Homo sapiens: one gene and its partners. The protein of the gene in region 1 interacts with the protein of each later gene in a biochemical or structural test. Each region holds a gene or a part of one and is shown in the gene's direction. Other genes may lie near its edges. The genes, in order: EIF6, OAS3, DHX58 and EIF2AK2.

Region 1 (3,390 bases):
TTGCTCCATATATCTTTGCCAACACTTGGAATTGATGACTTGTAAAAATTTTAGTCATTCTGGCTGGGGGCAGTGGCTCACACCTGTAATCGTAGCACTTTGGGAGGTCGAGGTGGGCGGATCACCTGAGGTTAGGAGTTCGAGACCAGCCTGGCCAACATAGTGAGACCCCATCTCTACAAAATCACAAAAAGTTAGCCAGGTGTGGTGGCACGCACTTGTAATTCCAGCTACTCAGGAGGCCGAAGCAGGAGAATCACCTGAACCCAGGATGCAGAAGTTGCAGTGAGCTGAGATCGCACCACTGCGCTCCAGCCTGGGTGACAGAGTGAGACTCTGCCTTAAAAAATAATAATCTAGCCATTCTGCTATGTGTGTAGTGTTAGCTCAGTTTTTTTTGTTTTTTTGTTTTTTTTTTTTGGAGACGGAGTTTCGCTCTGTCACCCAGGTTGGAGTGCAGTGGCGCGATCTCGGCTCACTGCAAGCTCCGCCTCCCGGGTTCACGCCATTCTCCTGCCTCAGCCTCCCGAGTAGCTGGGACTACAGGCGCCCGCCACCACGCCTGGCTAATTTTTTGTATTTTTAGTAGAGACGGGGTTTCACCGTGTTAGCCAGGATGATCTCGATCTCGATCTCCTGACCTTGTGATCTGCCCACCTCAGCCTCCCAAAGTGCTGGGATTACAGGCGTGAGCCAACACGCCCGGCAGCTCAGTTTTTAAGTAGCAAAATATACAGCTAATGCCAAGAGCTCAGCTTCCCTCCCAGTTGGTGATGGTGAAGTAGGCAGGATTTATTGGGATTCCTGGGTGGTCTCTGGCCTGCCCTGGGTGTTTTCCAGATCAGTGGGTTGGAGGGCTGGGCTCTGGGCCTAAAGCTTTCCTGGGAAAGCTGATTGGGCTGGGCTGAGTGGTATCCTCAGCCCCTAGGGCTCAGCAGGCATCTTGTGTATTCACCCTCTAATTTGGGTTTCTCCAGGGAACAGGCACGGTCTCCTGGTACCCAACAATACCACCGACCAGGAGCTGCAACACATTCGCAACAGCCTCCCAGACACAGTGCAGATTAGGCGGGTGGAGGAGCGGCTCTCAGCCTTGGGCAATGTCACCACCTGCAATGACTACGTGGCCTTGGTCCACCCAGACTTGGACAGGGTGAGGCAGCCCAACTTGACCCAAGAGTCACAGGGCCATCCTAGTCAGTGGTTAGCCACTGTTCTTTCCCAACAGGCAGCAATTAGGGGTCTCTCCTGTGGTTTTTCTATATGGGCTCTTGAGTTTCAGGTACTCATTGGAATAGTGATAACAGAGGCCTTATCAAGTGTCAGAAAGAAGCTGGGGAGGGTATGAATCCTTCATGATTGGGGAGATTGAACCATCCAGTCCTGCATCCTGGGCCAGGATAGGTGATTGACTGTTGAACTTTTGACTGTGGGTGAGAGGGGAAAGAAGTGATATTGAGACCAGCCTCCAGCTGTTCAGGGCATGCATGAATATTAGGGGCTTCACAGCTGCCCTTGACTCTGCTCTAAGCTGTACTTCCTCCTTTCTCTGGGTGAGGCTTTCATATGAGGTACAGAGGAGAAATGAGGGGCTCAGGGAGCCAAGGCCTGGATGCTTCTGGGCATGGAGAACCTTGGTTCTGGGGCTGTAAGTTCTGAGCCCTGAACACAATATCTTTGATTGACAGGAGACAGAAGAAATTCTGGCAGATGTGCTCAAGGTGGAAGTCTTCAGACAGACAGTGGCCGACCAGGTGCTAGTAGGAAGCTACTGTGTCTTCAGCAATCAGGGAGGGCTGGTGCATCCCAAGACTTCAATTGAAGACCAGGATGAGCTGTCCTCTCTTCTTCAAGTCCCCCTTGTGGTAAGCATTCCTGTCCTCTGAACCCCGTCTCCCGAGGCAGATCCTTTTGCCTAGTGTTTGGGAGTCTGGGTCATTACCTGCCACAGTTTGGGACTGGGGCTGCAGGTCAGGGAGGAGCAGGGTTTGGGGAGAGTCTTCATTGAGGAGGGAGAGAATTTGGTGCCGTGACTCACATTGAGCCCATCCCTTGGCAGGCGGGGACTGTGAACCGAGGCAGTGAGGTGATTGCTGCTGGGATGGTGGTGAATGACTGGTGTGCCTTCTGTGGCCTGGACACAACCAGCACAGAGCTGTCAGTGGTGGAGAGTGTCTTCAAGCTGAATGAAGCCCAGCCTAGCACCATTGCCACCAGCATGCGGGATTCCCTCATTGACAGGTACCTGGGGCCTCTCCTTTCTTCTGCTCAGGGTTGGGGGTTAACTTGCATTTTGAGAGTATGGGGAAAAGATGTCATCTAGAATGGGAGCCTACCAGTTTGTTCTGGTAGCTTCTCGAGTGTGAGAGCATATCTGTACACTGCTGAGCAGATAAGAGCCAGCATATTCAAAAAATATTTCTTGAGCATCTGCTAATCCTCATCTTTGTGGTTTTTCAGGGCTAGGATACTAGAGCAGTAGCTGCTTGAGCAGCTTGTCAGAGCTGGTCCCGGGATGAGGGCTGAGGCAGGCACCTCACTTGAGAGTGAGGTGGGCTCTGTGAAACAGCTACTGACCGTGCGCTTTCCTTTCTCTTCAGCCTCACCTGAGTCACCTTCCAAGTTGTTCCATGGGCTCCTGGCTCTGGACTGTGGCCAACCTTCTCCACATTCCGCCCAATCTGTACCGGATGCTGGCAGGGAGGTGGCAGAGAGCTCACTGGGACTGAGGGGCTGGGCACCCAACCCTTTTCCACCTGTGCTTATCGCCTGGATCTATCATTACTGCAAAAACCTGCTCTGTTGTGCTGGCTGGCAGGCCCTGTGGCTGCTGGCTGAGGGTTCTGCTGTCCTGTGCCACCCCATTAAAGTGCAGTTCCCTCCGGGCCATTCTGAATGTGATGTTTGGGGCCCTCAGCCTGTGTACAATCCCTGCACTCTCCAGTTGTTCCAGCATTCTGGGAAGATAGGGTGGGATGAACACAACACACACCCAACCCAGTTCACCACCTCCACACACGCCATTCCCTTCTCCTCTACCATCAGGATGTGAGGCTTCATCCTGGGGCAAGAAACACTCTCCACTACAGTTCTCCTTTTTTCTTTTTTCTTTTTGAGGCAGTGTCTCCCTCTGTCACCCAGGCTGGAGTGTTGTGACGCAAGGATGGCTCACTGTAGCCTTGACCTGTTGGGCTCAAGCGATCCTCTCGCCTCGTTTATTTTTTTGTAGAAACGAAGTCACTGTGTTGCCCAGGCTGGTTTATACTCCTGAACTCAAGCGACCCACCGCCTCGGCCTCCCAAAGTGTTGGGATTACAGGCGTGAGCCACGGCGCCCGGTCTAGTTCTCACAGTTTTCACCCGACTTCTGCGCCGGTCTTCTCTGGCCTTG
Region 2 (7,543 bases), on another chromosome or scaffold:
TTTGCCAGTTTCTTCCAACATTTCATTAAGAAAAATTTCCAAGCAAACAGCCACATTGAAAGAATTTTGCAGTGAACACTCATATACTCACCACATAGATTTTACAATTAACGTTTTATTGCACTTGCTTGATTGCATATCTACAATTTCTTCATCCTTCTATCCATCCATGAATCCATCTTATTCTTTTGATGCATCAGAAGATTCTTTTTCTGCCAGGCATGGTGGCTCACACCTGTAATCCCAGCACTTCGGGAAGCCAAGGCCGTTGGATCACCTGAGGTCAGGAGTTCGAGACCACCCTGGCCAACATAGTGAAACCCCGTCTCTACTAAAAATACAAAAATTAGCCAGACATGGTGGCACACACCTGTAATCCCAGCTACTCGGGAGGCTGAGGCAGGAGAATTGCTTAAACCTGGGAGGCAGAAGTTGCAGTGAGCCGAGACCACACTGCTGCACTCCAGCCTGGGCTGTCTCAAAAAAAAAAAAAAAAAAAAAAAAAAAAAGGAAGGAAGGAAGGAAGAGAGAGAGAGAAAGAGAGGAAAGAAAGAAAGAAAGAAAGAAAGAAAGAAAGAAAGAAAGAAAGAGAGAAAGAAAAGAAAAGAAAAGAAAAGAAAGAAAAAGAGAGAAAAAGAGAAAAAGAAAGAAAGAATATTCTTTTTCAAAAAGAAACCAGCAGCAATTTCTTCCCGGGCCAGTACAAGGTGGTGAGTGAGTTGACTAAGCAGACAGGCAAAAAGAGAGAGAGTATCTGTAGGAGGATACTGTCACCTTTTATATATAGGCAATAAGCAATAGTTTTCCAAGGAGAACAGCAGATGATTTGCTACTGTATCAACCAAGAATATATTTGACCGTAGTAAGTAACAGAATGTGTAACAGACATTCTGAGTCATTTTGTTACACCCACAACTGTGGGTGACCTGTCCAGATATGCCTTCTAATTCCAAGCACCCCAAGAAAACCCCTGTGCTTAAGATTTTATCTAGCCATGAATCCAACATTTTCTATTTGCTTATTAATTTTTTGTCCATCTTCTCTCGTTAGAATATAAATTCCATGAGAGCAGAGGCCTTTTCACTTATTCACCACACATGTTCTGTGCTAGACCAGTGGCTACCATAAAGAAAACACTGAATAAATATTTATTTATTTATTTATTTATTTTATTTTTGAGCCAGAGTTTCACTCTTGTCATCCAGCCTAGAGTGCAATGGTGTGATCTTGGCTCACTGCAACCATTGCCTCCTGGGTTCAAGTGATTCTCCTGACTCAGACTCCTGAGTACCTGGGATTACAGGTGCCTGCCACCATACTCAGCTAATTTTTGTATGTTTAGTAGAGACGGGGTTTCACCATGTTGGCCAGGCCAGTCTCGAACTCCTGACCTCAGGTCATCCACCTGCTTTGGCCTCCCAAAGTGCTGGGATTACAGGCGTGAGCCACCGCACCTGGCCTTAATAAATATTTATAAGAATAAGGAAAGGATCTGTTTTCCACATCTCATAAGTTGTCTTTTATACCTTTCTTTTCTATGTTCTGCTTTCCTGTAATCTCGAGTAATTTCCTCCATTCCATCTTCCAGTTTACTGATTTTATCTTCAGGTATATTTATTCAGCCTATCTATGGAGAAGGTTCGGTTTTTCTGTTCATCTTTGGTTTTATTTTGCATTATGTTTTCACTTCCAATGTGATAGTGGTGATTGTTGACTTTCATCACTGTTCTTATTTCATGGATATGATGAATAATCATGAATACAATGAATAATTATAATGGATATAATATCTAATCCCTCTGAGGATATTAATTATATATTTCTAAGACCGTATTAGTCCAATTTGTACTTCTAAAACAGAAAGCCACAGACTGGGAAATTAGTAAAGAACAGAAATTTACTTATCACAGTTCTGGAGGCTGAGAAGTGCAAGACCAAGGCTTCAGCAGGTTAGGACCTGGTCTCTATGCTTCCAAGATGGCGCCTTGAAGAATGTTGTGTCTTTTGGAGGGGAGGAACACTATGTCCTCACATGGCAGAAAAGCAGAAGACAATGAGCCCATTCCTCCAAGCTCTTTTCACAGTGGCCATAATCCACTCACGTGGGCAGAGCCCTCATGACACAAACACCTCCTGTTAGACCCCACTTCCCAACTGCTGCATTGGGGAGTAAGTTTCCAACACATGAATTCTGGGGGACAAATTTAGACCACAGAAGACTCTTTCTCCTTTATTGATTATTTCAGTGTCCTTACATGTGAGTTTTTATGTTCATAGCATTGGATCTCCCAAAATAATTTGGCACCTTTGGATGTGTGCTTTTTGCTCACTGGGGATGTTCTGCTTGTCTCCCTGTGAAGTTGGTACCTTCTTACTGCAGCTGGAGGCAGAGATGAGGAAAGGGGATGTGCCAGGAATGAGTCTTCTGCATACAGGACTTCCTGTTCTTTCCAGATGTGGCCAGGTATGCTGTGTACTTCCCTGCCTCTCTGCCCCACCCTCACTGCTCCCTCCTTAGGCAGGCACCTCTGCTGCCTGTTACTCAACACAGAAAGGTTGGGGCGGGAGACCACATGTCTTTAGAGGCTGCCATTACTATGCCAGCACAACTGACAACCATGAGAGTTAACCTAGGGTCCCTTCTTTTCCTTCAATCCACTGCCTGGAGCCTGCAGCTCCTCAGAGCCTTTCCACTCTGCATAGGTACCCCCTCCTTTATGTGTTTTGGCTGCAATTTCCTCCTTCATCCAGTCTCATATCTCTGACAGGGATCTCAGATTCCAGTTTACCTGGGACACCTCTGGTTAGGACCCAGCAACATTATTAAAGTTTTTCTATCGCTTTCCTGCCACCTCTAGAGGCCTGGGATGGACGTTGAAGGCTTATGCATATGTTCAGTCCACCATCATGACCCAATATTGACCCTTCTGCGTTCCATCTTCTAAAAATGCCTCAAATGTCCCGCCCCCTTGACTCCACTTTTTCTCAGTTTCCAACCCTGTTGATTTCCATTATGCTTTTAATATATCTTTGCTGCTATTTTAATAGAATTTTGAGCATGTGTTCAATCCACTATCTTGAATGGAAAGTTTCTAAAGTGGCCTGTGACTCAGGAAGAAGACTGTGATTAATGGGCGAGAATGAAAATCATTGCTCAATCCCTTGACTTAAATCCCCACCACAACACCTGACCTACAAAACCTGCCCATACTTGAATATTCCAAGTGATGCAGCATTCACTACTCAAAATATTAGCTGGTGTACATATTACAGACCCAGCATCTCTCCCTCTAGTTGACCATGACCTCTGAAATTCACACTCTGATCCTATCTATTTCCTTTCAGTTACCGTGCAGATGTCAGGAAGCACTTGTTAAGACTATTACCTGAAGTGTACTCAGAGGCAGAGTAAATGCTGGGTCCCGGAGCAGACAGGAGAGAGGACCTGGGAGTTTTTTAGTAAGATGGGGAGGAGGAGATAGGCTATGGCTTGGACCAGGCCTGGAAGAGAGCTCAGGTGTGCAGTCTCTAGGAACCCGGGTGGAGAAGCAGCAGGAAATAAGCAGAAAAAGGAGACAGGCCATGAAGATAGAAGCGCAATGGTCCTGGATTCAAATCTCCACTCTGCAGCTTATAGCTTACAGTCCGCTTAGCTTTGTGCCCATTCCAAGAGGATTTCCCTATTGTAGCTTTACAATGTTTTAATATGTAGTATTGTTGTGCAAGGTACCATCCTAAACTGACTGACTTTCCTTCCTCCTTCTCCTCCAAAATAATTTTTAATTCTTGCAGACAGACTTTAGATCGTGTGTTTGAAGTTTTTAAAGATGGAATTTTTATTGGAACTGCATTACACGTATAAATTATTTAGGAAGAGTTGGCTTCTGAAGAGGGCAGCTCTGTGGGCTTGGGCTGGGTTTGAATCCAGCCAGACAACTTTCCAGCTGTGTTACCTTGGACAGTTACCTAGTTCCTCTGTACCTTGACTTCCTCATCTGTCAAATGGGTGATGATAATAGCACCTACACCATGGTCGTTGGGAGGAGTCAGTGAGAGTCTCCAAGTGTGCTTTATTATCGTTGGTGGTGGTAGTGGTGTTTAGAACGCATCCCTCAGTCAGACAGCGAGGTAGGACTTCTCCGTTTATTAAATCCTGACCTTTTTTTTCCATGTAAAACCTGCACGTTTCTGAAATGCTCAGAGTACGTTACTCAGTATGTACCCATATGTTCTGTGGGTATACTTTGTTAGGTTGTGATTAGTTCGTTGGAGCTGGTGGTTGCAGGGACGGCTGGAAGCAAGGAGATGAAGGAGAGGAAGTCGTAGCTGGGAAGGGGACCAGGAAGTGGGTGTCAGGTCCAAGAGCTGCTAGAAAGAAACGAAACTGAAAGCAGGGAATTTCCCAAGTTTGGGGAAGACAGGAACTGCAGCGCCCCTCCCCGTTTCACGCCACGCGCGGGACCGAGGACCTAGGACCTGGCCAGCTGGGCGTGGTTCGGAGAGCCGGGCGGGAAAACGAAACCAGAAATCCGAAGGCCGCGCCAGAGCCCTGCTTCCCCTTGCACCTGCGCCGGGCGGCCATGGACTTGTACAGCACCCCGGCCGCTGCGCTGGACAGGTTCGTGGCCAGAAGGCTGCAGCCGCGGAAGGAGTTCGTAGAGAAGGCGCGGCGCGCTCTGGGCGCCCTGGCCGCTGCCCTGAGGGAGCGCGGGGGCCGCCTCGGTGCTGCTGCCCCGCGGGTGCTGAAAACTGTCAAGGTGAGGTCCCACCTCGGGGTCTTTATGTGTCCAAAGGGGAGTCCTGGGAGGACGCTTAAGCCTCACATAGGCTTACGGTGGGGGTGGCTTTATCCGCTTGTGCACCTCATTCATTTCTTTAACAAATACTTCCAATGTGCCAGCCCCGTGCTAACTCCCCCGAACATACGAGCCAGGTAGGTACTCTTAAGCCCGCTTGACAGATAGAGAAAATGAGGCACAGAGAGGTACAGTGACGTGTCCGATCCTGTAAGAGGCCCAGCCAGGATTCAAATCCAAGTAGCCTGATTCCTGCATCTCTACTCTCAGAGGCTGCTTCTTATCCATTCATTCACTCATTCACTCATTCTCCCAGTCATTCAAACAGACTGTGGGCCTCACACTATGCCAGACCTTAAGGTTACAGAAGTAATAACACTCCGCGTAACAGCCAGAGTAGCCCAATTTATTGAGACATTATCAAATAACAATGAAAATTATCTCATTAAATGAGTATTACCTCATTTCATCCCCACGTTCAGTGAGGCAGGTATTATTGTACCTGTTTTATGGATAGGGAAACTGAGGCTAGACGCTAAATTACTACTCTGAGTCACATCTTTTTTTTTTTTTTTTTTTTTTTTTTTTTTTGAGACAGGGTCTCGCTCTGTCACCCAGGCTGGAGTGCAGTAGCATGATCTTGGCTCACAGCAACCTCCGCCTCCTGGGCTCAAGTTATTCTCACACCTCAGCCTCCCAAGTAGCTGGCACTACAGGTGCACACTACCATGCCTGGCTAATTATTTGCATTTTTTGTAGAGATAGAGTTTTGCCGTGTTGCCCAGGCTGGCCTGGAACTCCTGGGCTCAAGTGATCCACTTGCCTTGGCCTTTCAAAGTGCTGGGATTACAGGTGTGAGCCACCATGCCCAGGTAATTTTTGCATTTTTTGTAGAGACGGGATTTCACCATGTTGCCCAGGCTCCGGGTCACTTTTTGTCACTTAAATACAGCCACACTGCCACTGTGATCCCAGGACACTCGCAGATTCAGGGAGGAGACAAGTCATGAGCTACCTTATCCTCAGGGTAGATTTGGGGGTGCCAGGAGTGGATTGATGGAGGGAACCTGGGTGTGCTAGAGGAGGTTGTCAGGAGAGGGAGTGAAAACGCAGAGTAGAAATGGCCTCAGAGCACCTAGTGGTTTCCTGGGGCTGACTCTCAGCTTGGGAGGTGGGGAAGGAGGAGACACTTGTCGCCTAGGAGGTGTGAAGTCCCGTTTCTACCTTGGAGATGGACAGGAGGGATTTCTGTGCAGCAAGGGAAAGCCCTGGCATCCTTAGCTTCCCTGGAAAGGGGTGGGAGGGGGTTCTGGAGCACAATCTCCCTGTGCTTTCATTGTCTCCTTTGTAAAGTGAGCACGGTGCAATCTCCCTGTGCTTTCGTTTCCTCTTTTGTAAAGTGGTACCTTCCTTCTGGGGCTGTGAGGAAGGTTCAATGAGATGAGAGTGTGCAAAACGTGCAGGAAGTGCCCAGCCTGTAATATTCCCTGTTCCCACTTTGTCAGCAGCCCCCAGATGGTGGGAGCTGGTAGTAAAAGGACTGGCATAATCATCGGGATAAGTAGGGGGTCCCAGTTTGAGGCAAGCCTTGCTCCTGGAGGGCTCCATCCTGGTTCTTGCTGTTTACTGGCTGTGTAACTCATTTCACCATCTGAGCCTCACTCCCCATATCTGCAGCCACATGTAACTACATCACAGTTGTTTTGTGTTGGAAGTGAGATTAGAGACGTCAGATCCCAGACACAGAACAGTGGCTCTGACAATGTTTAGGAGTTTCTTTTCCAAATCCTCAGGTTGGAAGCTTTGCCGAAAGAAACACTAATCACACAGGTCTCAGAAATTGAGTCATACCACAGTTCTGTACCCATTCTGAGCAAAGATTGCAAATGTGTGTTCTGCAAAGCAGAATTTGTTTTACCTGCGGTCTTGAGTTTTTAAAAAGTTAGTTGCCAACATTTAAAAATCATGGATATAGGCCTGGCATGGTGGTTCATGCCTGTAATCCCAGCACTTTGGGAGGCCAACGAGGGCAGATCACTTGAGGTCAGGAATTCGAGACCAGTCTGGCCAACATGGTGAAACCCCATCTCTACTAAAAATACAAAAATTAGCCAGGCATGGTGGCGCACACCTGTAGTCCCAGCTACTCAGGAGGCTCAGGTGGGAAAATCACTTGAACTCATGAGATGGAGGTTGCAGTGAGCTGAGATGGTGCCACTGCACTCCAGCCTAGGCAACAGAGTAAGTCTCTGTCTCAAAACTAAAAATAAAAATAAAATTACAAGTATGGATTTAGCCCAGCACGGTGGTGCATGCCTATAGTCTCAGACACTTGGGAGGCTGAGGCAAGAAGATCACTCGAGCCCAGGAATTCCAAGCTGCAGTGAGCTACAATCGTGTCTGTGAATAGCCACTGCACTCCAGCCTGGGCAACATAGCAAGACCCCATCTCTTTAAAAAAATGTAAAAACTAGCCAGGCATGGTAGCGTGTGCCTGTAGTCTCAACTACTTGAGAGGCTGAGGCAGGAGGATCACTCGAGCCCAGGAGTTCAAGGCCGCAGTGAGCTATGTGTTCCAGCCTGGGTGACAGAACAAGACCCTGTTTCTATGGAAAAAAAATCATGAGTTTACATGTTAAAATTGCTTCTCTTGAAATCTCGAGCCTGGCTACCCTGGGCCCACATTCCCGCGTGGCTTCAATGCCTACAGCCATGTGGCCACAGTCTCTCCCCAGCACACTTGCCTC
Region 3 (7,035 bases), on another chromosome or scaffold:
TTCACCACGTTGGCCAGGCTGTCTCAAACTCCTGACCTCAGGTGACCCGCCCGCCTTGGCCTCCCAAAGTGCTGGGATTACAGGTGTGAGCCACCATGCCTGGCCGGTTCTATTATTCTTTTACTGGTTTATTATCTGCCTCTCCAACTCCAATCTGAGTTCCTTTGTATCCCCAGTGCCTAGAACAAGACGGGCACAGAGAGGGCGAGCAATATTTGAGTAGACGAATGCCCACATTCTCCTGTCCTCAGCTGGGATCCATCCTGCCCCAAATCTTTGACCATTGTCCCCACAGACCCTCCCTTTCCAGTAAAGTCCTCTGTTGCCCCCAGCTCTGTGCCAACTTGGACACGTGGTGCATCATGTCACCCCAGAACTGCTGCCCCCAGCTGCAGGAGCACAGCCAACAGCCTTGCAAACAGTACAACCTCTGCCACAGGCGCAGCCAGGTACGCGGGGGCAGGGACACGGCGAGAGCGGGAGCCGGTGTGAAGTTAGGACACCTAGGCTTGGGCCCTGACTCTGCCCTCACTAGCTCTGTGACTTCAGGTCACTTGCTATGTATCCAAGCCTCAATTTCTCCTTTCTGTGAAATGGGGCAGATACAGCCCATGCCCACAGCCCGCTCTTTGGATTGACTCAGAAGGCACCACTGGTGTCTGTCACATCACTGTCATGCTGGGGAGTGCACTACAAACCAGAGAGCAGGGATACTTTGTGCTGAGGCTCTACTGAGCCCTCTCTAGTGTGGACACGGCCTCGTGTCTGCCATGACTGGACTGGACAAGGACTAGGTGTCAGGTCCATAACTATACCAAATGTTACACTTGGGGTCAGGTTTGAGCCCATGCTGTGGTCTGGAGGGAGGGAGTGAGTGAGCAGATAGCTGAAAGAACCCTTGGGGGGCCATAGGCAGGTGAAATGTAGTTTTATTCAGCAGCGGCTCTCTCACACTGTCCACCTTTATCTGGGCTGTCTGCTCCGGCCCTGTGGCTCCTGCTGCCCCCACGCCTGCAGCTGCTCTCCCTGGCCGGCAAGGCCAGCTCTGTCAGGGTCAGCAGCTTAACTCTTTCCCTCTGGGCACAAGCGGGTTCCTGGCTCCCCACTGCCCACCTTCAAGGCGACCGGCTGTCCCTTGCAGGGGTTAGTAGCATTATTCTCTCTCTGGGCGAGCAAGCGTGCCCTGCCGTGCCGAGCTGAACCAAGCTCCGTGAACAGCGTCAGCAGGGCAGTTTTACCTTCTACTGACAGTAGAGTCCAGTATGAACTTACACAAACAGGTTATATAGCAAGTGGAGTACGTGCCTGCCCCCCAAACTCGCTGAGTCACTCTGGCCCGGATGTCCGCCTCGGCCTATTCCTTGACCAAAGCACGTCCATGTGCCTTACACTAGGCATCACCGTGCCCAGGCCAAAGGGTAAGAGCACATCGCGGGTGAGACAGGGCAGGACTCCCCCACACCCTAGCCGGCCTCCCTCTGGAGCTCACACCACAGCTAAGACAGATGGGTGAGGCAGTCGCGGTGTGCTACACGCCGGGGTCAGCACCCCCACTGGGTGCCCATCCTCCAACGTGTATGGGAATCCCCTCCAACTCTCCTCTTGCTCAGGATCCGTTTGGGGACTTGCTGAAGAAGCTCATGGACCAAATCCATGACCACCTGGAGATGCCTGAGTTGAGCCGGAAATTTGGGACGCAAATGTATGAGCAGCAGGTGGTGAAGCTGAGTGAGGCTGGTGAGAGGGGCAGCCCTTCTGGCGGAGGCGAGGATGTGGGAGTGGTCAGGGGCGGGGCCTGCCGGGGCGGAGGCCTTTGGGGCGGGGCCTATCCACCCCAGGGGTGGAGTCGAGTGGGACGGCCCTATGGGGCAGGGCAGGGGGCGGGGCTGTGGGCTGCTCAGACCCTGCGCCCTCTTCCCGCAGCGGCTTTGGCTGGGCTTCAGGAGCAACGGGTGTATGCGCTTCACCTGAGGCGCTACAATGACGCGCTGCTCATCCATGACACCGTCCGCGCCGTGGATGCCTTGGCTGCGCTGCAGGATTTCTATCACAGGGAGCACGTCACTAAAACCCAGATCCTGTGTGCCGAGCGCCGGCTGCTGGCCCTGTTCGATGGTGAGGGGCGGGAGGGGGCTTCGGGGCCGGGGATGATGGGACCTGGATGCGAGGTCAGAGGCCAGGGCACAGGCGCCAAGGTCGGATGGGAAGGTGCCCGTGAGGATACTGGTGGAGATCCTATTTTTCTAACCAAAATCCAAGGCCATGGGTAGGACTGATTTATTTCCTCATTTGTGAAGGTTTTTGCTTAGTTGTTAAAATTAATTAACATTGTTGACTTTTTTTTTTTTTTTAATAGTCGGGGTCTTGCTCTGTCACCCAGGCTGGAGGACAGTTGTGCAATCATAGCTCACTGCAACCTCGACCTAATGGGCTCAAGTAATTCTCACCCTTCAGCTTCCCAAGTAGCTAGGCGTACAGGTGGGCACCACCACTCCCAGCTAATTAAAAAAAATTTTTTTTGAAGAGGCGGAGTCTTGCTTTGTTGCCCAGGCTGATCTCTAACTCCTGGGCTCAAGTGATCCTCCTGCCTCTGCCTCCCAAAGTGCTGGGATTACAGGTGTGAGCCACTGTGCCCGGCCCAGATTTTTTAAAAGGATTAGCTAGGAGTGGTTCCTTTAGACTGAGAGAGTGAAGCTGAAAGTCAGAGGGTGAAATTTAAGGTTGCAAATCGCAGCACAGGCTGGGGCTCAAGAGATCTGGGTAGCAGAGGTCAGAGTTAAAAGCTCAAGGGTCATCCTGGTCACTGGGGAGAAGAGGGTTCTGGTCTGAGGTTCTGTACTGTATGACCCCGGTGTGAGGCTGGCCTTGAGAGTGGGCTCGGTAGGAGGCATCCTTTTTTGTTTTTGTTTTTGTTTTTTTGAGAGGGAGTCTCGCTCTGTCGCCCAGGCTGGAGTGCAATGGCACCATCCCAGCTCACTACAACCTCCCCCTCCTGGGTTCAAGTGATTCTCCTGCCTCAGCCTCCCGAGTAGCTGGGACTACAAGTGTGCATCACCACGCCCAGCTAATTTTTTTGTATTTTTAGTAGAGACGGGGTTTCACCATATTTGTCAGGCTGGTCTCGAACTCCTGACCTCAGGTGATCCGCTCACCTCACCCTCCCAAAGTGCTGGGATTACAGGCGTGAGCCAATGCACCCGGCCAGGGCATCCTTAAATATGTTCTTGGTGCTGCTGTGGGGGAGTTGAGCAGGAGTTCCATCCTTCCCCCACCCCCCACCCCCCACCTTCTGCACGCCTACAGTCCTATTGCTGTGAGAACCTCCTCCGCCAGTGCCCTCCCCACTCCAAGATCTGAATCCTCTGCCTCTGGGGCTTTTCTTCTTTCTCTTTCTTTCTTTCCCTCCCTCCCTCCCTTCCTTCCCTCCTTCCCTTCTTTCCTTCTCTCTTTCTCTCTCTCTTTCTTTTCCTTTTTTTCTTTCTTTCCCTCCCTCCCTTTCTTTCCTTCTCTCTTTCTCTCTCTCTCTTTCTCTTGCTTTCTTGCTTTCTTTTTTTTTTTCCCAGACAGAGTCTCACTCTGTTACACAGCCTGGAGTGCAGTGGTGCAATCATAGCTCTCTTCAGCCTTGACCTCCTAGGCTTAAGCGATCCTTCTGCCCTCAGCCTCCCAAGTATCTGGGACTACAGACATGTGCCACTACACCCAGCTAAATTTTGGGGTTTTTGACAGACCGCAAGAATGAGCTGGCCCACTTGGCAACTCATGGCCCAGAGAATCCAAAACTGGAGATGCTGGAAAAGATCCTGCAAAGGCAGTTCAGTAGCTCTAACAGCCCTCGGGGTATCATCTTCACCCGCACCCGCCAAAGCGCACACTCCCTCCTGCTCTGGCTCCAGCAGCAGCAGGGCCTGCAGACTGTGGACATCCGGGCCCAGCTACTGATTGGGGCTGGGAACAGCAGCCAGAGCACCCACATGACCCAGGTGTGGGCTTCGGGGAAAGATGCTGGCGCTGGGAGGGATTCCATAGGAGAGAAGTGCGGGGAACAGGGTCTTCAGCACAGAGAGGTGGGGGCAGGGAGACCCTGGGGAAAGAGAAAGTTGACTATCCCCAGGCAGAGGGGCAAGGAGCTAGGGGAGAGGGGCGGACACTGACCTCCCCAGTGCTGGAGCCTCTCCCAGTCTGGAGGTCCTTGGGGGCAGAAGGTTGGGCATGGGGGTCCGTAGGGAAAGAGGTGGGTGATGCAGTTCCTCAGGGCACAGGATCAGGTCTGGGGTCCCTTGCAGAAGACTATGGCTTGAGAGTTTTTCCTAGACTAGAGGGGCAGGGACCCTTAGGAGTCCCTAGGGAAGATAGGGGTTGGACAGTTACCTGGGAAGATGGGCAAGATCCTGGGGGTACCTGGGGATAAAGATGGGATTCAAGTACTCTAGGGAGATGGACCAAGATTGGGAGTGAGGGCTGAACCAGAAGAGGCTACTCTGGCAGGTGGAGTCAGTCTGAGCCTCCTCATGTACCAGCCTCTTTCTCCTCCCTGCCCTCCGCCTGCAGAGGGACCAGCAAGAAGTGATCCAGAAGTTCCAAGATGGAACCCTGAACCTTCTGGTGGCCACGAGTGTGGCGGAGGAGGGGCTGGACATCCCACATTGCAATGTGGTGGTGCGTTATGGGCTCTTGACCAATGAAATCTCCATGGTCCAGGTACTCACATCCTCCTCCACTCAGCCGCCCTTATAGGATCCTGTGTGGGGCCCCAGCCCAACTCAGGACACCCCTTGTCTCTCTTCCCAGGCCAGGGGCCGTGCCCGGGCCGATCAGAGTGTATACGCGTTTGTAGCAACTGAAGGTAGCCGGGAGCTGAAGCGGGAGCTGATCAACGAGGCGCTGGAGACGCTGATGGAGCAGGCAGTGGCTGCTGTGCAGAAAATGGACCAGGCCGAGTACCAGGCCAAGGTCTGCAGGCAGCCTGCATGCCCTGTGGGAGGGATGGGGAGGAGGGAGCCCCTCCCTGGCAGGTTTCTGACTGCACACATACGTCCCCCTGTCCCCTCTACATCTCGGGGCTAACTTTGGCCACCTAGGGAAGGTTTAAATAAGGGCCGGGGTGGGGCTGCCAGGGAAGGCAGTACCTGGACTCCAGAAGGCCTTGGGAACAGGCCTTGTCCAAGGCTCTTTATTTATCTTTGCCATGAGATACTTTATGTATCTGGAAGAGCTGCATTACAGCCTTTCTGGAACCAGGCAGAGGGGACAAGATAAGTCCACGTGCAGAAGATAAGCCCAGAACTAGGACTTATATCATCAGTTCCCCTGAGGCAGGGCCACCACCATCCTGCCTTGTCCAGGGTGCTCCCTGTTGTCCCAGCATAATTGTTAATGATGCCCCATGACAGATTCACAGAAGCAGCTTTGCCTAAAGTCCTTCAAGATTGAGCAGGAAAGCTTACCCCTCCCACTGTTGCCCCCGACTACTCATACTGTTTTTCTCCATAGCTGTTTTTTTTTTTTTCCCCGAGACGGAGTCTCACTCTGTCACCCAGGCTGGAGTGCATGGCACAATCTCCACCTCCTGGGCTCAAGCAATTCTCTTGCCTCAGCCTCCCGAGTAGCTGGGATTACAGGCATGCGCCACCATGCCCGGCTAATTTTGTATTTTCAGTAGAGATGGGGTTTCACCATGTTGCCCAGGCTGGTCTCGAACTCCTGACCTCGTGATCCACCCGCCTTGGCCTCCCAAAATGCTGGGATTACAGGCATGAGTTACTGCATCATCACAGCAATAGAGCTTCTTTTAAGCTCCAGGGAGGGTTAAGGAAAGTCTCTTCCAGGTACAAATGATCTTAGTTCTTTGGGAACCTTTTGTCCCCCAAGGAACGTTCTCTTAGGCCCCAGCCATGCCTGGTGTCTCCTCCCACCCCAGATCCGGGATCTGCAGCAGGCAGCCTTGACCAAGCGGGCGGCCCAGGCAGCCCAGCGGGAGAACCAGCGGCAGCAGTTCCCAGTGGAGCACGTGCAGCTACTCTGCATCAACTGCATGGTGGCTGTGGGCCATGGCAGCGACCTGCGGAAGGTGGAGGGCACCCACCATGTCAATGTGAACCCCAACTTCTCGTGAGACCTGTGGAAGGGGCTACTGGGATGGGGGCCTGGGAATCCTTCCCATCCAGACAGTGCTTTGAAGCTTTGGGAAGCTAAAGAGCATTGTAGCAAGTACTTTGCATTTTCACAATAATCTGGTTAGACAGGTTTTATCCCTGTCTCCATTTTACAGGCAAGGAAATAGAGGCTCAGAGAGGCTATGTGACTTGCCCAAGTTCCCACAGCCACTATCTGGTTGAGCAAGAACTGGAATTCAGGATACTAAGTGTCAAAAGACCACACATTGACCCTCTGGTCCTACCTATTCCGAAGATATCAAGAGAGCTTGGCCATCCCTGGGCCATCCTCCATCCACTATCTCCTAGAGAGTAACCTTCCCCCATCCTCCATCCATTCATTATGTTACCCTCTGTGTTCCGGGCCACTGTGCCAAGGATCTTCACACAGATTTTCTCAATTGAGGAGGTTGCATTTCAGCTAGGTCTCAATGGGTCTGGTTTGAATGTGAGCGAATGAGAAGGTAACCATGGAGGGCCAGGTGCAGTGGCTCACGCCTGTAATTCCAACACTTTGGGAGGCGGAGGTGGGTAGATCACTTGAGGTTAGGAGTTCAAGACCAGTCTGGCCAACATATTGAAACCCCTTCTCTACTAAAAAAAAATACAAAAATTAGCTGGGCGTGGTGGCCCATGCTTGTAATCCCAGCTACTTGGGTGGCTGAGGCATGAGAATCACTTGAACCCGGGAGGCAAGCCAAGATCGCACCACTGCACTCCAGCCTGGGCAATAGAGTGAGACTCTGCCTTTAAAAAAAAAAAAGCGACACCAGTTGACCTGAGTGGAAGGGACTGTGAATAATGAGATTTAGAAAAAGACAGACTAGCCCGTGGAAGATTTGAAAGGTCAGGTGTGAAAGTGTAGCCTTTATCCAGGAGG
Region 4 (7,035 bases), on another chromosome or scaffold:
GTGGCACCAGATAGAACCTATCATTACCCACAAAATAGGTGATCTTTGAGATGTTCTAGTCTTACCTTCTTATTTTATAGATGAGGAAACTAAGATCCAGAGATGTGAAGTGATTTTGTCTAAGATAAAAGCTAGATGGTAATTGTTCTCTGGTTGTCTGTTATTGTATAAGGCACTGCTCCAAAATGCAGTGCTTAAAAACAGCAATTTATTGTTGTCTCTAATGGTTCCATGGGTTGATTGTGCTCATCTGGACAATTCTCACTTGGGGTCTCAGAGGGATTTGCAGTCAGTAGTCATCTGAAACCTTGACTACAGCCTATCTTAGGCTGGATATCCAAGCTGGCTAGCAGTTGACACCGGCTGTGGGCTGGAAGTTCAGCTGGGACTGTCAATCAGAATACCTCCACATGGCCTCCCTATGGGGATTGGGCTTCTTACAACTTGGTGGCTGGGTTTCAAGAAGGATTGTCCCCAGAACAAGTCATCCAAAAGATCAGGAGTGAGTGGCAAGGCTTCTTTTGACCTAATCTGAGGAGTTCCAGAACGTCACTACCATCAAGTTATATTGGTTAAACAAGTCACTGAAGCCAGCTTAGATTCAAGGGGAGGCCAAATAGGCCCTACCCCGTAATTTGTCATTCTAGGGGATGAGTTCTAAGAATATTATTTAGGGACTGGGTGTGGTGGCTCACGCCTGTAATCCCAGCACTTTGGGAGGCCGTGGCAGGCGGATCACCTGAGGTCAGGAGTTCGAGACCAGCCTCACCAACATGGAGAAACCCCTCTCTACTGAAAATACAAAATTAGCTGGGTGTGATGGCGCATGCCTGTAATCTCAGCTTCTCGAGAGGCTGAGTCAGAAGAATTGCTTGAACCCGGGAGGCGGAGCTTGTGGTGAGCCCAGATCATGCCATTGCACTCCAGCCTGGGCAACAAAAGCGAAACTCCCTCTCAAAAAAAAATAAAAATAAAAATAATAAAAAGAATACTATTTAGGGAGGCTGAGGTGAGTGGATCACTTGAGCCCAGGAGTTTGAGACTAGCCTGGGGCAACATGGCAAAACTCCACCTCTACAAAAAATACAGTAATTAGGCCGGTGTGGTAGCCACGCCTGTAGTCTCAGCTACTTCAGAAGCTGAGGTGGGAGGACCATTTGAGCCCAGTAGGTGGAGGCTGCAGTGAGCCATGGTCACACCACTGCACTACAGCCTGGGTGACAGAGTGAGACCCTATCTCCAAAAAAAAAAAAAGAATGTTATTCAAATTATGGATTTATATCCAAGAAGATATAAATCACAGTGTCATTCATTAACAGTAAAAAGTTAGAACAAACAAAATATCCAGCAGTAAAGAAATGAGTATATATATTTTGTTCTGTCCCCTGATCGATGGCTGTTTTGCAGCCATTAAAAATGACTGGCTGGGCCAGGCATGGTGGCTCACGCCTGTAATCCCAGCACTTTGGGAGGCCAAGACAGGCAGATCACGAGGTCAAGAGACTGAGGCCATCTGGCCAACATGGTGAAACTCTGTCTCTACTAAAAATACAAAAATTAGCTGGGCATGGCAGCGTACGCCTGTAGTCCCAGCTACTTGGGAGGCTGAGGCAGGAGAATCGCTTGAACCCAGGAGGCGGAGGTTGCAGTGAGCCAAGATCGCGCCATTGCACTCCAGCCTGGGCGACAAAGCAAGACTCTTCTCAAAAAAAATGACTGGCTGGGTGCAGTGGCTCAGGCCTGTAATCCTACCACTTTGAGAGGCCAAGGCTGGTGGATCACTTGAGGTCAGGAGTGCGAGACCAACCTGGGCAACATGGAGAAACCCTGTCTCTACAAAAAATATAAAAACTAGCCAAGTGTGGTGGTGTGTGCCTGTGGTCCTAGCTACTAGGGAGGCTGAGGTAGGAGGATCGCTTGAGCCCTAGGGGTGGAGGTTGCAGTGAGCCAACATTGCCACTGCACTCCAGCCTGGGTGACAGAGTGAGACCCTGTCTCAAAAAAAAAAGGAAGAATCTAAAATAACATTATTTTAGGATTGTCAAAGTATCAGTAATTTTTTTTATTTTTGCAAATTTGTGTCATATACTTTAAAACTTCTTGCATTAAAAAATAAAATTGTAAAATGATTATTCTTCCTCATCTTTGAAATCTCCAATTTATTTACTGCACTTAGCATGGAATTTTCTTAGGTCTTGGCAACACATCCCTGTAAAGCCTTCCACCATTTCACCTTCTCTGCATAAGTTATCCTCTTTGTGTATATTTGCCACACATTGAAAATCCTGAATTAGGTACTTCACACTGCCTGGGTTACCTAGCCTTGCTGCCTAAATGTGGTTTGCTTGTGAAATACAAAGATTTTAACACAAATCTAAGCAAAACATAATGTATGATTTAGCTATGAAAAATTGCACTGGCTGGGTCCATTGGCTCATGCTTGCAATCCCAGCACTTTGGGAGGCTGAGGCAGGTGGATTGCTAGATCCCAGGAGTTTGAGACCAGCATGGGCAGCGTGGCAAAACCCCATCTCTACAGAAAATAGAAAAAATTAGATGGGTGTGGTGGTGTGCTCCTGTGGTCCCAGCTACTCAGGAGACTGAGGTGGGAGAATTGTTTGAGGCTAGAAGGTTGAGGCTGCAATGAGCCAAGATTGTGCCACTGCACTCCAACCTGGGTGACAGAGCAAGACTCTGTCTCAATAAAATAAATAAATTAATTAAAATGACATCACTGGCATTTCAAGAGTACTACAGATGATTTTTAAATTGTCTGATGCTTGGCATTAAGTCGCTGCCTTTTATTTATTTATTTTTTGAGACAGAGTCTTGCTCTTTTGCCCAGGCTGGAGTGCAGTGGTGCAATCTTGGCTCACTGCAACCTCCGCCTCCTGGATTCAAGCGATTCTCCTGCCTCAGCCTCCCAAGTAGCTGGGATTACAGACATGCGCCACTGTGCCCAGCTAAATTTTTTGTATTTTTAGTAGAGATGGGGTTTCACCATGTTGGTCAGGCTGGTCTTGAACTCCTGACCTCGTGATCCGCCCACCTTCGCCTCCCAAAGTGCTGGGATTACAGGCCTGAGCCACCGCGCCCGGCCACTGCCTTTTATTTTATCTTGAGAGTGAGAACTGCTATGTTTTTTTTCAGTATGTTCACTTTTTCCTTTTGAATGTCCTGGCTTCCATTCTAAAACTATGTGAGAACCACAGCAATGGTTTAATAAGGGAATGTAGACAGTTGTCTATTACATGAGGTGTTTTGTGGTTGTTATGAGGGATGTACACTGACACTGCCATGTTCCCTGTTCCTTTTAACTAGGAAGGCGGAGCGTGAAGTAAAAGCATTGGCAAAACTTGATCATGTAAATATTGTTCACTACAATGGCTGTTGGGATGGATTTGATTATGATCCTGAGACCAGTGATGATTCTCTTGAGAGCAGTGATTATGATCCTGAGAACAGCAAAAATAGTTCAAGGTAACTAAAAATAAATTCTCATAGCCATAATAGGATGGAAGGAAATTGTTATTTACTATGTATGGGCCACTGGATAAGGCTATTAATCATCACGATTAATTATCACAATTCCCTCTGAGAGACACTGTTATCTCTCCATTCCGAAGGTAAGGAGAAAGTGAAAATCTCTTCCTTGCTCCTCCTCTTGCTGCAGACTTGCTCTCACAACCCTCTGTTACATCCTCAGCTGTCTGCAAAATCTCAGGTTCAGCTTTCCTGACTCCATTGTTTCATGGAGAGCCTTGTTCACGTGCCGGCTTCAGCGCAGGCTGTTTAAGTGTAGTCTTGTGAAGAGAGTTTTAACATATAGATGCTGCATCTGGGGGCTCCCTCCTCAGCTACCAACACTTTTCTGTCCCTCTCTTAGGCTGTGATTGGTGTGGTGCCGTCAGAGGGTCTCTTTGGAATGTAACTATACCACTTATGCTGGGGTGGTGGGGAGTGAAAATATTTTTAAGACCACAAGCTGAGATGGGGGCACCCTCATGTTTTATGTCAGTTAAGCCATTGCCAAACAACTGGAGATCCTAAAGAGCTGGCATCTGTCTTTGAAAGTCACCCAACCTATTATGGGGACAGTCCTCTCACTAAAATCCTGAGGCCAATGGGGTCCCATTCATTCATTTTCTCCTGCCCCACCTCCATCTCCATGTCGTGTAAGTGAGAACATTATCATCAGTTCAGGAGTTATTGACCGTCAGCATACAGGACTTCAGCTTTCAGCAAATTCTTGGCTACCTCTTCCTGTTTTCAAGCTGACATATATACAAAGAATATAAATGAATATTGAGGCTAACTTAATTCAGAAAAAAAATAAAACGTGGTTAGCAAAAAAAAAAAAAAAAAAAATCAAGCCTCCAATTTATGTATCTTAGTAATTTGTTGGCACTTCTCTTAGAGTACCTTCCCTATTGTTTTAGGTTTGCTTTCCCTTTACTCTCTCCTATTAGACTATTATCCCCGTGACGGCAAGGATATAGTGTCTAACTGATTTTCTCATCTCTAGGTGCCTTTCATGCTTAGTAGATCAATGGTGAATTAAAAGGTTTCAAAGTTACTTTATATAATAATGAAATTTAGTTTCCTGCATTGTATTCATGTTCCTATTTCTATCTGTTAGCAATGGTGATTGCAGATCTTCAGCAATGAAGAATGGGTGGCTCATTTTTTTTTTCTTCTCGTTTTTTTTTTTTTTTTTTTTTTTGAGACGGTGTCTCGCACTGTCGCACAGGCTGGAGTGCAGTGGTGCAATCTTGGCTCACTGCAAGCTCTGCCTCCCGGATTCACAGTATTCTCCTGCCTCAGTCTCCTGAGTAGCTGGGACTACAGGCGCCCGCCACCACGCCCGGCTAATTTTTTGTATTTTTAGTAGAGACGGGATTTCACCGTGTTAGCCAGGATGGTCTTGATCTCCTGACCTCGTGATCCACCCGCCTCGGCCTCCCAAAGTGCTGGGATTACATGCGTGAGCCACCGCGCCCGGCCTCTTCTTTTTTTTTTTTTGAGACAGAGTCTTACTCTATCGCTCATGCGGGAGCACAATGGCGTGATCTCAGCTTACTGCAATCTCTGCCTTCTGGGTTCAAATGATTCTCGTGCCTCATCCTCCCGAGTAGCTGAGACTACAGGTGCCGCGCCACCACACCCAGCTAATTTTTGTGTTTTTAGTAGAGATGGGGTTTCGCCATGCTGCCCAGGCTGGTCTCAAACTCCTGAGCTCAAGCAATCCGCCAGTCTCGGCCTCCCAAGGTGCTAGGATTATAGGCGTGAGCCACCGTGCCCAGCCCAGCTCATATTTTATAAATTAGCTAAACAAATAAAGCTCTGGACATCCGGGAACTTATGATTGAAATAAAAAATGGCCTATTATATTTTGATTCAAATTTGTTTATTATATTTAGATTTCTATTTTGTGACATGTTTTGGGGTTCTTTTTTTTTCTTTTTTTTTTTTTTTTTGTGAGACGGAATCTCGCTCTGTCACCCAGGCTGGAGTGCAGTGGCGTGATCTCGGCTCACTGCAAGCTCCGCCTACCGGGTTCACGCCATTCTCTTGCCTCAGCCTCCCCGGAGTAGCTGGGACTACAGGCGCCCGCCACCACGCCTGGCTAATTTTTTGTATTTTTAGTAGAGACGGGGTTTCACCGTGGTCTCGATCTCCTGACCTCGTGATCCGCCCGCCTCGGCCTCCCAAAGTGTTTTTGGGGTTCTTAAGAAGATAAGGTATAAGCTTTTAAAAAGTTATGAAAAACTTTAAAAAGTTATAAAAAATTTTTTATAAATTTATATTTATTGTTACTTTTAACATACTGTGAATTTTATACCCAGGTCAAAGACTAAGTGCCTTTTCATCCAAATGGAATTCTGTGATAAAGGGACCTTGGAACAATGGATTGAAAAAAGAAGAGGCGAGAAACTAGACAAAGTTTTGGCTTTGGAACTCTTTGAACAAATAACAAAAGGGGTGGATTATATACATTCAAAAAAATTAATTCATAGAGATCTTAAGGTAAGTGGAAAATGTACTTTATTAATTGATATATATATAATATAGTAATTTTAAAATATATCTTCTCAGCTGGGCACAGTGGCTCACGCCTATAATCTCAACACTTTGGGAGGCTGAGGCAGGCAGATCATCTGAGGTCATGAGTTCGAAACCAGTCTGGCCAACATGGTGAAACCGTGTCTCTACTAAAAATACAAAAATTAGCTGGGCATGGTGGCGTGCGCCTGTAATCCCAGCTACTCGGGAGGCTGAGGCAGGAGATTCGCTTGAACCTGGGAGGTGGAGGTTGCAGTGAGCCAAGATTGTGCCACTGCACTCCAGCCTAGGTGAAGAGTGAGACTTGTCTCAAAAAAAAAAATTATATATATATATAAAATAAGATAGATAGATATATATTTTTTTCTCTAGTTTTAGAATAGTGGTTGATTGATAGTTATGAGAAAATGGTATCTGAACATTTCCATGCAAATAATTACTGTGACTGGCACAGCCAACTGGCTGCTCTGCCCCTGTTCCTCCTGCCTCCTCTAAGTGACTCAGCTTTATTTGAGAGGCAGAGGGGACTCTGTTGACTGTTGCTTTAGGAATATGGTTCCCTAATCTCTCAGTCATTACTCGCGAGGGCTGTCACAGCTACTGGGTCCAGAGTCTAATACTGTCTTGGTTAAGCATTTCAACCCCATGATTGGAAAATTGCGGTAATCCCGGACTGGGAAAGTGTATCATCCCTTAGTATTTTCATTTTCCTCTGGCTTTTATGGTCCGGACAAGGAGTTTCCCTATTTTTTACTTCTCATTAAAATGACAGAAGGTGAGAGACAGAATAGCCCTTCACAGCCTTTCCTCCATTCCCTATTCCCTGTGACTTGCCTAAGCCTGTCACAAGCTGGCCGTCCTGAATCCTGTCCCTGGACCTTTGCTCATGTTCTTCTCTCTCATGGGACACTCTTCTGCCTGCCCCCTTTGGTTGTAATTCCTTTACTGAGCCTTTCCTGATCACTCTGGAAC

What was found.
Region 2: the proteins of EIF6 (region 1) and OAS3 form a complex in vitro, tested with the Homo sapiens proteins (one study listed by BioGRID).
Region 3: the proteins of EIF6 (region 1) and DHX58 form a complex in vitro, tested with the Homo sapiens proteins (one study listed by BioGRID).
Region 4: the proteins of EIF6 (region 1) and EIF2AK2 form a complex in vitro, tested with the Homo sapiens proteins (one study listed by BioGRID).

What each region holds. Positions count from the first base shown.
Region 1 is NC_000020.11:35,278,417-35,281,806, reverse strand, and holds the end of EIF6 (eukaryotic translation initiation factor 6), read left to right. Parts: intron 1-977; coding exon 978-1,153; intron 1,154-1,688; coding exon 1,689-1,865; intron 1,866-2,059; coding exon 2,060-2,241; intron 2,242-2,600; coding exon 2,601-2,610; 3' UTR 2,611-2,889; downstream 2,890-3,390. UniProt on the Homo sapiens protein: Binds to the 60S ribosomal subunit and prevents its association with the 40S ribosomal subunit to form the 80S initiation complex in the cytoplasm. Behaves as a stimulatory translation initiation factor downstream insulin/growth factors.
Region 2 is NC_000012.12:112,933,951-112,941,493, forward strand, and holds the start of OAS3 (2'-5'-oligoadenylate synthase 3), read left to right. Parts: upstream 1-4,523; 5' UTR 4,524-4,580; coding exon 4,581-4,757; intron 4,758-7,543.
Region 3 is NC_000017.11:42,102,684-42,109,718, reverse strand, and holds part of DHX58 (ATP-dependent RNA helicase DHX58), read left to right. Parts: intron 1-332; coding exon 333-449; intron 450-1,610; coding exon 1,611-1,737; intron 1,738-1,923; coding exon 1,924-2,115; intron 2,116-3,729; coding exon 3,730-3,983; intron 3,984-4,551; coding exon 4,552-4,701; intron 4,702-4,791; coding exon 4,792-4,953; intron 4,954-5,920; coding exon 5,921-6,111; intron 6,112-7,035.
Region 4 is NC_000002.12:37,118,951-37,125,985, reverse strand, and holds part of EIF2AK2 (interferon-induced, double-stranded RNA-activated protein kinase), read left to right. Parts: intron 1-3,321; coding exon 3,322-3,480; intron 3,481-5,846; coding exon 5,847-6,027; intron 6,028-7,035.